Linked DNA regions of Homo sapiens. The protein of the gene in region 2 interacts with the protein of the main gene of each other region in a biochemical or structural test. Each region holds a gene or a part of one and is shown on either strand. Other genes may lie near its edges.

Evidence for each region.
Region 1: the proteins of DOCK4 (region 2) and PDZRN3 interact in a test that uses a peptide from one of them, tested with the Homo sapiens proteins (one large-scale study listed by IntAct).
Region 3: the proteins of DOCK4 (region 2) and PTPN3 interact in a test that uses a peptide from one of them, tested with the Homo sapiens proteins (one large-scale study listed by IntAct).
Region 4: the proteins of DOCK4 (region 2) and PDLIM3 interact in a test that uses a peptide from one of them, tested with the Homo sapiens proteins (one large-scale study listed by IntAct).

What each region holds. Positions count from the first base shown.
Region 1 is NC_000003.12:73,600,942-73,604,441, reverse strand, and holds part of PDZRN3 (E3 ubiquitin-protein ligase PDZRN3), read left to right. Parts: intron 1-1,980; coding exon 1,981-2,088; intron 2,089-3,500. UniProt on the Homo sapiens protein: E3 ubiquitin-protein ligase. Plays an important role in regulating the surface level of MUSK on myotubes. Mediates the ubiquitination of MUSK, promoting its endocytosis and lysosomal degradation. Might contribute to terminal myogenic differentiation.
Region 2 is NC_000007.14:111,867,400-111,870,899, reverse strand, and holds part of DOCK4 (dedicator of cytokinesis protein 4), read left to right. Parts: intron 1-1,244; coding exon 1,245-1,326; intron 1,327-2,745; coding exon 2,746-2,916; intron 2,917-3,500. UniProt on the Homo sapiens protein: Functions as a guanine nucleotide exchange factor (GEF) that promotes the exchange of GDP to GTP, converting inactive GDP-bound small GTPases into their active GTP-bound form. Involved in regulation of adherens junction between cells.
Region 3 is NC_000009.12:109,379,808-109,383,307, forward strand, and holds part of PTPN3 (tyrosine-protein phosphatase non-receptor type 3), read right to left. Parts: intron 2,641-3,500; coding exon 2,495-2,640; intron 1,981-2,494; coding exon 1,845-1,980; intron 1-1,844.
Region 4 is NC_000004.12:185,518,508-185,522,007, reverse strand, and holds part of PDLIM3 (PDZ and LIM domain protein 3), read left to right. Parts: intron 1-3,500. UniProt on the Homo sapiens protein: May play a role in the organization of actin filament arrays within muscle cells.

The sequences.
Region 1 (3,500 bases), on a different chromosome or scaffold from region 2:
GACCTTGGATGAGTTTCCGAACCTCTCTCAGTCTCAGGTTTTTCACCTGTGGAATGGGTAATAATAGTACTTACCACTTGTGGTTATTGTGAGGATTAAACAGTGCACATAGAGCACTCACTATGTACCTGGTACCTAGTTTGTGCTCAGTAAAGGAAGCTGCTTTGCAGCTTTATACATATATTTCAGGTGTGCATGTAGGGAGCTACACGGATGTGTTCAGACTAGTGCCTCAGTAAGGCTGCCGTGAGAGAGGAAGGAGGCACAGAGGTATTCAGATGGTAAAGGGTTAGTGTGCAGGAGGTCTGTGCAGAGCACTGTGATGCTAGGCAGGGATGCCTTTTGAGGATAGATGATCCTACACAGCACCCACAGGCTCCCTGACCCTTCTCTTGGAAGAGCGTTGATGGAATCCAGATGCCAGTTAGAGACATATCTTTGTCATGTGGGGATAAATGTCAGGAAAAACACTTAATGCTCATTTTAGGTTGTGATTTTGGTTTCTTTTGGTGAATCATATAACATTTTACTCTGTGTGTGTGTGTGTGTGTGTGTATGTGTGTGTGTGTGTTTGGGGAAGTGTGAAGAAGGAAGGAGAGAAGGACTGAGAAATGTACATTTTTCCAAGCTTAGTTATTGCTGTTGCATTTGAAGGGGTAGACTGAATCACACTTGAAGTCGTTTCCTTCCCCCTTTAGAATATAGGGATTGTTTTTTGGTTTTGTTTTTTGCTGTTTAAAGTGGAAAATGTTTTATTTGAAGAGTTATTTTTAACAAATGGAATTTTTATGTATTTGTATTCAGAGTAATTGTTATTGAAATAAATCTTCTAATGACATACGGCAAGGAATTTACCATGACTAGATTTTGGAGTTTTTGTGGAACATTCTGAGCTTACATTTCAAATGATTTTGTTTGGAAATATCACATGCTTGTGCCATTTAATTTATAAATCCATCTGTTAATCACTAGAAATTTAATCCGTACACTTGGAGAGAATTCATTGCAGTGCTGTTTGAAAAGAAGTTCGTGAACAAGCTGTGAGGGTTTTTTATGAGCTTGTTGGAGCCTTTTGATTTTAAGGAAAGGAAGGAGTTTGAACAGTGAGCTGTCTTCGTTCCCAGAAAGTTTTAGTTCTGACATTTAATTCAAAGATCTAAAGAGATTCAAGGAGGTCAGAGATCAGAATTTATTAGGACTAGAGTGATGGTAGTGCATCGGAACAAAAACAAAATATCTGTTTTCACAGTCAAATTATTAGATATTTACAAGTTTAATAACATTCTGTGCAAATGAGGATGTGGGAAAACACTCTGTCTAATGAACAATAAGTATAAACTCTCTGAAAAGCCATTTGGCAATATCTTTGAAATGTACATATCCTTTTACCCAACAGTTCCATTGTTAGGGATTTGCCCTAGAACTATAATAGCAAAGATAATTTAAAATACAAGTAGGAGAGTATTATCACAGCATTGTTTAATCACAGCAAATGAAAACAGTGTTTATTAGCCTCATGTTGGATACTGTTCAGTCACTTTAAGAAGTAAGGCAGACACGAATTGGTAGCAGAAGATCTTCATGATTTTTAGAGTTAAATGAGAGAGGCAAGGACATAAGAGTCAGACTAGCATAATCACATTTGTATGCAAAAAGGAACAAATGCATATTTAGGAATATGATGTGTTAAAATGTTTTCAAAAGGATGCATAAAGTCAAATAGCTACCATAGGCGGGGGAAGAAGGACAATGGGTTGGAGATGGCAGGGATGCATCATTTTATGTCCTTTGGTGTGGTTTGAAATATTTTACTGTGTGTGTATTTTAGTTTAAAACAGAAATTAGGAGAAACAAATACCTTTTACCCTATTGCCACTCTTGACACAGCAAGAGTCAATTACTGTTTTAAGAGTGCAAGCTTTACTTTCATGCTCAACTTAATGCCTAGCATTCATGCATGTTTTTTTTTTTAACCCAAAGGATAACCACGATGGATCATCCAGTGAAGGAATCTTTGTATCCAAGATAGTTGACAGTGGGCCTGCAGCCAAGGAAGGAGGCCTGCAAATTCATGACAGGATTATTGAGGTATGTGAATACTGGCCAGTGTCTTTGAATAGGCTGAATGCCATCCCATCTTCGTCTAGCTCAAAGCAAGATGTTTGACTGGGGAGGGAGGCCTAAAGTGGTAGATGGTTGAGCGGGAGTCTCACTTTTCCCATTGTGTGGGACCAGATTGAGTGTTGATTGCCTTGGTGTTAAATTTTTGTTAAATGTAGAAAAGCCAGATTATGAGTGGAATGTTCACAATTTGGCTTTTTTCATGTGGACCTCAATCTGTTTCGTATGCATCAGTTACAGTTTCGCGCGAAAACCGTTGAAGAGTTGGATGTTAGAACCAGATGAACGAACCCTGTTGTACAAATTGTGCACCCTGTTCATATTGATTACCAGGGTACAATTGTGTCAGCTTTGGAGTCATTCTAATGTCCTCAGAGCTCACACAGCACACACTTATTTCTACAAATGCATTGTTCTCTCTGTTAGTTTGTCGTCTTTGCCTGTTGTTAGTTGTACAACCTGATTGCCCAGGGATTTGCAGGCAGAGGTTGATATTAGGGTTCACATATCATCACTTACTCCATTTTCAGTTCGTCATTCATCATTTCAAACTTTTATACAGCAGGTTTGTAGACTCATGTAGGGGAAGTGGATCTCTCAGCCCCACCAGACAACACTTTGTAACAGGGTTGCAGTGTTCTAGGATGCTCTGAGTCACTAAAAGGGAGAGAATGATTTGTTGCCTTCTCATATGGGCTCTTGTTGCAAAGTTTGATATAAATGAGTAATTTTTTACTGGTGTTTTGACCATTTTCATAGCTCTTTGGATGGATACACATATGGGCTAAATTGATTGGCTTTCCTATTAGGCAAAAAGTAAATTTGAGAATCCACGATGATATGCCAGACCCCACAAGAAATTCACCCATGGGCCACAGCCGTAATATAGTGCAAATAGAAGAAACCAGAAAAACAGCACCGATACCAGTGGGTGTTTGTTTTCCACATGCATTTTTATCATGTCTGTATTTCCTGAGTATTTTCATGGCCTATTTCAAAATTTAGGACTGAGTGGGAGCTAGGACCACGAGCTAAGCCATAAGTGAAGTTCACATCACTCACTGGAATGTGGCCACAGGCTTCTCCTGGGGAAAGGAGCCTCAGCAAGACAGAGAACAAAGTCTTGCATTTCCAGTCTCATCTGGACACATTCTGCAACGTGCAGTATGCTTCAGGATAATTTGTAATCCTCAGGAAAATACACAGTTAAATCTCACAGGGAAAGCAAACTGAACTAGTTAGGGTGTAAGGCTCCCTCCTCGGAGGGAGTGTGATGTGCTAACTTACATGCTAAAATGATACTTGATTTTGTTTTAAGGACATTATTAATATTGTTGCATCCCCTTTGAATGTTTGAAGGGTTCTTAAACTTGGAGCTT
Region 2 (3,500 bases):
CTAGTGTGAGGAGGTTACTGCTTCCAAGTTAAATTGTCTTTGGAAGCTAGAAAACAAGAGTATAATTTCTCACACTTCCGGTTGGCCAGGAAAGCAGGATCTTAAAAAGACAAATAAGGCTTGTGGAATCCTCTTAGGCTGGGGGTGATCAGAAACTCACTAGCATGTTATCTTAAAAAATAGCACTCCACCAACATCTACCTACTGGCACATCCAAGTATTCTCCCCTGACCCAGAGAAACATTGCTGGGTAAACTGTTTCCTAGAAACCAAGAACTGGCTGGGCACAGTGGCTCATGCCTGTAATCCCAGCACTTTGGGAGGCCAAGGTGGACAGATCATTTGAGGTCAGGAGTTCAAGACCAGCCTGACCAACATGGTGAAACCGGGCCTCTACTAAAAATACAAAAATTAGCTGGGCGTGGTGGTGCATACTTGAATCCCAGCTGCTTGGGAGGCTGAGGCAGAAGAATCTGCTTGAACCCAGGAGGGCGGCAGAGGTTGCGGTGAGCCAAGCCACTGCACACCAGCCTGGGTGACAAAGCAAGACTCTGTCTCAAAAAAAAAAAAAAAAAAGAAAAGAAAAAGAAAAAAGAGAAACCAAGAACTGACCAAAGTTCAAGGTGTAAGACTGTCATCTTGAGAGTTGTGGGCTGTTGTTTTTACATTTTTTCAAAACAGGAAAAAAAATTACCTTGGCCTTTCTAGAAATTCTCCTAAGGCACATATTGACATAAGCCAGGTTCTTCTCATGGGTCAGAAAATTGGCTTGATAAATCCATAAGGTGTGCATAGCAGTGGGGAGGCATTGTCTCCATCCCTCCTTCCCACCCCGTTTTGCCTGCAGCCTAATGATATTGCATCCAGCTGTTTACGTGGTCACTGGGAAAGAAATCCCAATGAGCAGTTTTACAGTATTGACCATGGCACTCACACTGCCAGGCACTTGGTTGGGCACAGTCCTTTTCTCCAATATTTGTGTTCACCCATTTGGAGGCATTACCAGAAACAGCAGGGCTATGGAATATGTCCAGATTGAGTGTTGTTTCTCCCTTAAGCTTTGAAAAGGGTGGCAGTGTTGATCTGCAGATTTAGTAAAATTATTATACAGCAGATTGACAGGAAAATGTGAGAACTGATGGGAAAAGAAACCTCCTCATGATATAGTTAAGAGTTGGATTTGTTGGCATTTAATTGAGAATTAGACCAATTTTACATTCTGCACATTTTCCCCTGTATTTTAGAGATCTCATCAAAGTGCTCAAATGGTACGTGGACCGGATCACAGAAGCAGAGCGGCAAGAGCATATCCAGGAGGTGCTGAAGGTGATAACATGCTGTTGATAACAGCAGAGTCTAACAAAGCTGTTGCATGCTGATGCTTAAACTAATTGGTTCCTCTACACAGACAGTAATGGGTGATGATGTATTACTGACATTCCAATTCAAGGATCTTAATCAGTTTGTGACTGCTTGAGAGCTGATGAAATTTGAAGGGGACTTTGCCAGGGTAGTCTACTGGAAACTGTTCAGGATTGAATCCTTGTTCCTCTGGGCTGGAGAGTACTTGAAGTGAAGTCTAAGATGAGCAGGAGAGAGGGAGGGTTTATGAGAGAAGTCTATATGGGGCAGTTAAGCTTAGAAGTTCCTGGCTCTTGCTTCCACCAACCTGACAGAGACCATCGGAGAACCATTTATGTTAAATTTTAAGAGCAAATAGGGTGGCTTAGCGGGGATTATAATGAGGAAACCTGAGGCTTTACCGGGTCTTGTGGCTTAACGCTGCCCACATCGCTGGGCACCATATGCTCAGTTGTCTGTGGAGATACTAATCCCTTACTTGCAAACATGTTGAAAAAGAGTACAAATTCTTAAAGGAATTGTCCAGTAACAGCCCTGGTAGTCTTCTGATTCCTGTTGTTGAGGACCATCCTATTTGGTGTCAGTAGCTTTAAGTAGACAATGTATACATTTTATAAAATAGCATTTTGTGAATTATTCATTTGTAATTTGGGCTGATTGAAGGTAAAATGCTAAGTGGCAAGAGTACTACCTGTCAAAACAAAATTATTTTTTAAAAAACAGTTATCTTTTTGTTGACTAAATTTAAAAAACATCTGAGGGTCAAAAACACTTAGTGTTCATCATACTCCAGAATGATAAAATTTTTTTTTTTTTAATTTTTTTTTTAGACGGAATTTTGCTCTTGTTGGCCAGGCTGGAGGGCAATGGTGCATTCTCTGCTCACTGCAACCTCCGCCTGCCAGGTTCAAGCAATTCTCCTGCCTCAGCCTCCCAAGTAGCTGGGATTACAGGCATGGGCCACCATGCCTGGCCAGTTTTGTATTTTTGGTAGAGATGTGGTTTCTCCATGTTGGTCAGGCTGGTCTCGAGCTCCTGACTTCAGGTGATCCACCCGCCTCGGCCTCCCAAAGTGCTGGGATTACAGGCGTGAGCCACCGTGCCCGGCTAAAGTGTTTTTAAATTTTCTATTAAAATTCTATTTCTTTTAAATTTCTTTTAAATTTAAAGTGTTTTTAAATTTTTTTTCTCTCATTAGGCATCAGAGAAAAGTGGCTGTTCCCCCTTAAAGTAAATACTGTTCAAAAAAGCCTCACAAGGCCTTGGTGTCTACATGAATAATGTAAAAGTTTAATGCCATACCATGGTTTTTATGCCGTGTCATTGCTAAATAAATACTCTTTGTCTCCTTTGAAGCTAACTTTTAAAAATTGTATTTTTAAGGCACAAGAATACATTTTTAAGTATATAGTTCAATCTCGAAGGCTGTTTTCCCTTGCCACTGGTGGGCAAAACGAAGAGGAGTTCCGCTGCTGCATTCAGGAGCTTCTCATGTCAGTCCGTTTCTTTCTTTCGCAAGAGAGCAAAGGGTCTGGAGCATTATCTCAGTCACAGGTAATTTCTTTTCATCTATGCTGAATAGAAGAAAACGATAAGTGCAGTTTATTTATTTTTACACAGCAGCGTAATCAAATGTTTTCTCCATCAGAAGTCAATTGCTCCAGTTTATATTTGTAGCTTAACCAACTTTATGAGTAGACTTTTAAAATTCCCCTACCTTCTGTGTACCAGCTGAGCAGAAGTGGGTTGCCTTTCCCTTCTCTCTCTGCATGGAGAGGCTATTGGTTTGCATCAGCTTCATTTCCGGTTACCAGAACACATACTGACGACTGGACATGCTGTCACCACCAGCCCTGGGGAAGGAATTTCACTAGGGCCAATCTCTTGCAGTTCTTTTCCCCAAGCTTCTCACTGCATTTTAATCTGTCAACTTGAGAATCATTATATTGGACTCAGCTAAGCTGCATGTTGTTTTGTTTTATTGAACTTGACCCTAATCATCCTGGGACTGATCTTTTAAGACCAGTGCAGAGCTGCTGCTGCCGCCAAACTCCATTACCGGAAGTAGCCCCACATGTTTTTTTTAAGAACAGGATCCATCTACTTCCCAAATAGCATGGCCTTGAATATGTTCCATG
Region 3 (3,500 bases), on a different chromosome or scaffold from region 2:
CTCCCAGAGAGGGGTGGGCAAAGTGTCATGGAGACATGACAGAGGGAGAAACTGGCGGTCTGGGGGAGGTGGGAAGGAGCAAAAGTCCCTGCGGGACAGCCCTTCTTGTAAGTGGAAGTGTGGAAGCCTCAGTAAGAGCCCATTTTGAGAAACGGGGTCAGGGAGCCTGCTCCTGGACTCAACACCTAGGCATGTGGAGGAGGAGGGGCTGCACAGGTGGGCTGGGACCTGGTTGTGGGCACCTTGTGTTGGGGTAAGGAGTCTGGATTGTGTTTTACAAAGCAGAGCCACTGAAAGATGCTCTGCAGGATACAGTTATTTATCTTAGCAAATACCTAAGAAACATATTGTAGCAAAGTATACAGGGGGGATAAAAGCATTTAGACTGAGCTTCTCCAGCTAGGAAAATCTATCTATCTATCTATCTATCTATCTATCTATCTATCTATCTATCTATCTAGTTTTCAAGACAGAGTCCTGTTCTGTCACTCAGGCTGGAGTGCAGTGGCGTAATCTTGGCTCACTGCAACCTCCACCTCCTGGGTTCAAGCGATTCTCCTGCCTCAGCCTCCCAAGTAGCTGGGACTATAGGCACATGCCACCATGCCTGGCTAATTTTTGTATTTTCATTAGAGACGGGGTTTCACTATGTTAGCCAGGCTGGTCTTGAACTACTGATCTCAAGTGATCCACCTTCCTTAGCCTGCTGAAGTGCTGGGATTATAGGCGTGAGCCACCGTGCCCAGCTTCCAGCTGGGAAAATCTACCAGGATGATGGACTTTTTTCTTTTTAACCAGCCACGAGGTCTTCCATACCAAAAAACAGGGCAGAGAATGGCCCTAATAACATAAGCTGATTTTTTTTCTCTTAACAAGATTTTCTGGGTACAAACTAATATAAAACTACCAAAGCTTAAAAATTTATTAGGGAAATCTTATAAACTTTGTCCACAGCCTGTGAAGAGACAGAGCTGGTTGGAACATATAGTTCCTGCTCCTTTCTTTGCTAACTCCTCATGTACCCTGGGGGTTTTTACCAGAGAAGACACTTCTCCAGGAAGCCTTCCTAGACTTTCCAAATCCTGCTTTAGATACTCTTCCACCATGTTCTCAGACAGCCCTGAACTTCCCTCACCGCTGCTGACACTTAGCATAGACTAATCCAGTTCTCCTACTAGATACAAGCCTGTCTCTGCACCCTTCTTTGTCAAATGAATGAATGAATGAATGTGGGATGGTCCCCATTTTGCACAGGGAAGCTGAAGCTTGGAGAGAGGTTCAGGACTTATGCAAAGGTTGTTCCATTTGTGGTGGGACCTTAATCATGCTCTTTCCACACCGCTTCACTGCCCCGCTTGCAGTTCCAGGGGAAATCCCCAAGAGTTATCCCCTAGAGTTCCTCTTGAGGACAAGAGGATGTTGCACATGACCCTACTTTGAGCTCTGGCCTGCCCGTGGAGGACACAGCAGGTACTCAGGCACCACACGGGTGGAACAGAGCTCAAAGTAGGGTCATATGCAACATCCACTGAGCCAAAAGGAGTACCCAGGTCTAGGTGGGTCGGTGCGGGGGAGGATAATGGACAAATGATTGTTCAACGATACAGAATGCAACCAGGGCTGCTCCCTGACAGACGGGCTGGCAGGAAATAAACCACAGAGGCAGCAGAGCTCAGAGGTGAGATGGGTGTGGGCTGTAGCCACTGACAAGCTCTGTGACCTTGGGCAAGTGATTCAGTCCCCCTGAGCTGCAGTCTGTTGACTCACAAAGCCCTTCTCTCAGGCCTGCCTGGTGTAAGTGCTCAGAAAGTGCCAGCCACCGTAATTACTGGATTTCTACTCACTGATGTCTGCACCATCATGGCGCGCTGGTCTCGCATTTTTCGGACAATATCCAGTGGGTAAATGGGCAGGTTCCTCTCAGTTAGGCACATGGCTGTTTCCATAGTGACCAACACACCGGTTCGACCTATTCCAGCACTGGAGAGGGGAGAGAAGACAGACTTGGGATTTGTCTGAGTAGCCTTTCTGCATGGCCCAGCGAGCAGTTCCCCGCTGACTCCAAAGGGGCTTTCCTCCCTTGGCCTTCGAGAAGACAAAACGCACACTCACGGCGTGCTCTCAAACAGGCTGAGACAGCCTGTCCTCACACATCTGAGACTGGGGGCTAGCAGGCAGTGGAAAGAGGGCCACTGTGAAGTGCCAAACCTATTCCCTTTCTCACTCACACCTATGACGAAGGTCAGCTGACAGAAGGACAGGAGAAAGGGTGTGTGAGGGGATTTTCTTCTTCAGTTCTGTGCTACATTCACAAAGTTAGGATTTCATAAAATTCCAAAAAACTTTTGAAATGGTGAAGAACCACAGTCAACAGAGGTTTGTAAGGGCACACGACTTTGTGGGATGTAGGGTGGGTCTGGCGCCTGCCAATTGTCTCCAGGCCTTTTCCGACAGGGAAAGGATTCCAAACCTAACAAAACAGCAAGCGCCATACCTGCAGTGAACTAGGACGGGCTCGCTGTCCACTCTCAGAGACCTCACATAGTTTACAAATTCCAGAAAGTCGGAGGAGTCATCGGGCACACCGTGGTCAGGCCATGCGACGTACTGGAGATGTGTCACTGTGTGTTCTTCCCCGGTCTGTGGGAGATGCAGTGGCCTTGGTGAGCCCATCCAGGTGGTGAGCATGAGGACCCAGCCCCAACCCAGACACAGGGTGGCCCTGTCTCCTGATGCTTTCTCCCTCTGCGCACAGCCCTGCTGTGGCCCCTAGCAATTCCTCCCCTCCTTCCCCAAAGATCCCCATCCCCTCTCAGGCTCAGCTGTGGGCCTGTCCTGCAGGGCTGCCTTCCTTGATCACTTCTGCCCAGTGATCTCCTCTGCCCAGTGATCTCCTCCATTTGCTGCTATGGTACTTGCCATTAGAGGCCACACATGCTGACTGTTTTTTTTTTTTTTTTTCAACTGTGGCAAAATATACTAACATGAGGCTTACCACTGTAACCACATTTAAATGTACAGTTCAGCGGCATTGAGAATACTCGCAATGTTGTAGAGCCATCAGCACTACCTATTTCCAGAACTTTAAAATATCCCGCAAACATAAACCCTGCACCCATTATGCCATATGGCAAAATGTCCATAGATGTCCTTTCTCCTCCTTCCCCAAGCCCTTGGCAACCACCGTTCTACTTTCTGTCTCTATGAATTGGACGACTCTAGGCACTTCACAGAAGTTGAATCCTACAGTATGTGTCTTTCTATGTCTGGCTTATTTCACTTAGGATAATATGCTCAAGGTTCCCCAGTGTTGTAGCAGGGGTCAGAATCTCCTTCCTTTTAAAGGCTGAATCATATTCCATTGTATGGACAGACCACGTGCTGTTTATCCATTCCTCCATCGATGGACACTGGGCTGTTTGCACCTCGTGCCTGTTGTGACTAGGGCCACTGTGAACTCTGGGCCCTGGCTCTTTGATGGGCAGTCTTGCGCACTTACT
Region 4 (3,500 bases), on a different chromosome or scaffold from region 2:
GGTAGAGTCTGAATCTAAAATCCACTAAAAGCAAAAGTAGGAGAAAATAAGCCCCAAAAGGAGTGAGCAGGACAGAGAATATGTTCATGAAGGCAGGAACCTTGAGGCTGTTGTCTTCCCTCTGAGTCCCTCCAGCTCAATAAATAGCCCACAGCTCAATAAATAGCTGACAAATGGATGAAAGGAACTGGAGGGCCTAAAAATGAGCTGTGCATTTTCTAACATTGCCAGGACCTGTCCTGGGAGCCAGTTCTCAAAATGGTGTTCTGCCATCACTCTCAGCTGTTGCATGGAAAGTAATCTTGAAAGTTGAGTGGGGCCAGGCGCATTGACTCACACCTATAATCCTTTGGGAGGCAGAGGCAAAAAGATTGCTTGAGCCCTGGAGTTTGAGACCAGCCTGGGCAACATGGTGAGACCCCATTTCTATAAATTTTAAAAATTAACCAGGGCATGTTGGTACACACCTGTAAGTCCCAGCTACACAGAAGGCTGAGGTGGGAGGAGTGCTTGAGCCCAGGATGTCGAGGCTGCAGTGAGCTGTGATTGCACCACTGCACTCCAGCTTGGGTGACAGAGCAAGACCCTGTCTCAAAAAAAAAAAAAAAGAAAAGAAAAGAAAGTTGAGTGGGATACTTAGGCTAGGTAAGACTTTTGCTCTTTGGGGTAAGTGAGCAAAAGAAAATGGATGGCACAGATAATAAATATAATGAGAAGGGATCTGAATGCTGATGGCGACTCCCCCTGACATACTAGGTGGGCTGGTGAATAATGACACCTCTAGTCAACATTTTCTTTGCTAGAAGAAAATAGTGGAAGAAAAAAGGAAAGTTCTTGAGGTAGAGTTCTCACTTGTATCTAGCCTTTTGCAGAGATGCCCAGGCTGACCTGCTTCCTCCCACCGTCATCAATTTATCACCTGGAGGTGACACATGAGAAAAAGAGACTATATGGTGCTTTTAAGAATTAAAGTCAATAGACATGCACTTATTGACCACTCAGCCTCTTATCATTACCTGGACCAACCAGAAGGGACTCTGCATTTCCTTTTCCCTACACAGCACACATCCAATATTGCACTGCATCCTTTGCAACTTATTTTTCCATGCAAGAATTTCTCCTAATTTTTAAACCCAATTTCGTTAATATGAGATGCAAGAAATGAGGCCAACTAGATAGATCTGACCGAAGTACCAAATCCCCAGTGATCCTTCATCATGGTTGCATCCGTCACCCCAGCATGTAAGTAATTCAGCAAGTATTTACTAAGCACAAAGTGAGTTTAGACCAGGATGGGAGCCCACGTTTTGCTAACATCTCTCCAGAATTGGAGTTTAAGGGTAATTTTCCAAGTTGTAGCTCTAGCAGAGGCTTCTATTGCAAGTCTATGAGTATTAATTTATGACTATGGTTATTCTAAGGATGGGATTTTAAGGCATAATCCTAATTTTAAATACTCTGACCTCTTGTCAAGCATGTATTAGCCCTTGTGTCCTACATTTGGGGGTTAGAAAATATGAATATTTACAATACTACAAATGAGAAAAAGGAGATTAAATTGTTTTTTTTTTAAAGGTTGAGATTAGGTTAAGGGCTATAGCAGCCAGTCAGATGGAGCCTTGAAACATTCCATGACTTTGCGTCATGACTAATTCTTACTGACATCCTCTCCAAGAGGCCGGTGTTTGAAATGCTCCAAGATAAGAACAATTCAGTTCTACTAATGAACCAAAGGATTTCTACTCCTTATGAGACTCTTAGGCCAGATTTCTGCACGGCCAGTTTATGTAACTTGGTACTTCAGGACAGACATTCCCTACACAAAAATAACTAAATTGCAGTGTATCTCCTGCTATCCAAAAATCCTTTAGCGTAAACCAGAACAAAACGTGCTGATAAAAGTCAAACAGTGAGTTTCACTTGTGGACTGAGACGAGAGAAAAGCTAAGCTATGGTTATAGGGTTTTTTGTTTTTCTAAGTAATACAAAGCTGTGCAAAAAAGATGTCTTTTTCTTTTTTATCAAAATGACAACTCTGCAAATACAGCAATCTTCTGGACAGCAAATACGTGTCAGTTAGAGAAACAAATGCCATTAATATTATCATGCTTCAGGATGTCATTGCAGATGAATAGCAAAAGGCCATGGAACAATATGAAATTTGAGTTTTTGTTTCTCAACCCAAGTCAAACTTTTATTGTAAGTTATGTGACCTTTGACATTGGAATAAAATACACTTTCTCACTTACTTATTGGGGAAAAAACTATACCATCCAAGCCCAGCCACAGATATTAAATATTAGTATGTTTATTTCTGGGGGTTTTTTTCCCCTGTGAATAGGTTTAAGCTAAGGAGACATTTTCTTATATGGTTATAGGAATAGTTGATATAAAATTTTAATATCTAGATTTTTAAAATGTGGCCGGGCATGGTGGCTCACGCCTGTAGTCCCAGCACTTTGGGAGGCCGAGGCAGGTGGATCACCTGAGGTCAGGAGTTTGAGACCAGCCTGGTCAACATGGTGAAACCCTGTCTCTACTAGAAATACAAAAAATTAGCCAGATGTGGTGGCACACGCCTGTGGTCCCAGCTACTGGGGAGGCTGAGGCAGGAGAATCACTTGAACCCAAGAGGTGGAGGTTGCAGTGAGCCAAGATCGCACCACTGCACTCCAGCCTGGGCAACAGAGTAAGACTCCGTCTCACAAATAATAATAATAATAATTTTTCCATGCTATCATCAAATAGCTAAGTTTTGTTTCTCTGAGTTTAGACTTGAATCTTAGGCTTAAAGGGCACGTTAGTTGTTGTTTAGATCAACTCCCAGCACCTGAATAAATGCCTTCCATGCAATCCTGAACACAATCTATTTTTCTCTATTTTTCTGTACAAAAATAGACAAAATGGTCCATTTTTTAGTACGAAGTGTTGCTCTTGACTAAGAGTATGTTAATGAAGCTCTTTGTCCTTTTTCAAAGCTTACATTCTCAAACCATAACCCTCATATTTGCTTAATGTTAGTGGAACAACTCAAAGGTATACTGTGCCTGTCACAATACAAGAAAGATGCTTTCAGAAACAAAAATGGTTCTTATCTAAATAAGAAGAAAGCTGTCTCCATTTCCATAAAAAGGATTGCATCCTTGCCAGAGAAGATAATAGAGTTTACATACACAGTCAAGAAGAGTGTGGGATAAAGTCATTTTTATTTTCACAAATAAAAAGTGTTTTGGTAACTGGAAGGCAGCCCATATAAAACAAGCTTTCATAGTCACCATTTCCTCAAGCTCTTCCCAGTGAGAGATGGGAAACACTTGAAACTGCTCACTGGAGAAAAAAGGATGATGAGGGTGACTTTACTGTTTATTTGAGGGGTGAGTATGAGGAGGAAGTGATTCTAAACTTCAAACGTGATGAAATATAATTTCTTCATCATGCCTTGATCAAATATAAGATCACTTCATAGAGTTTGTTTCTCTTATATGCCCACCATTTTTTCA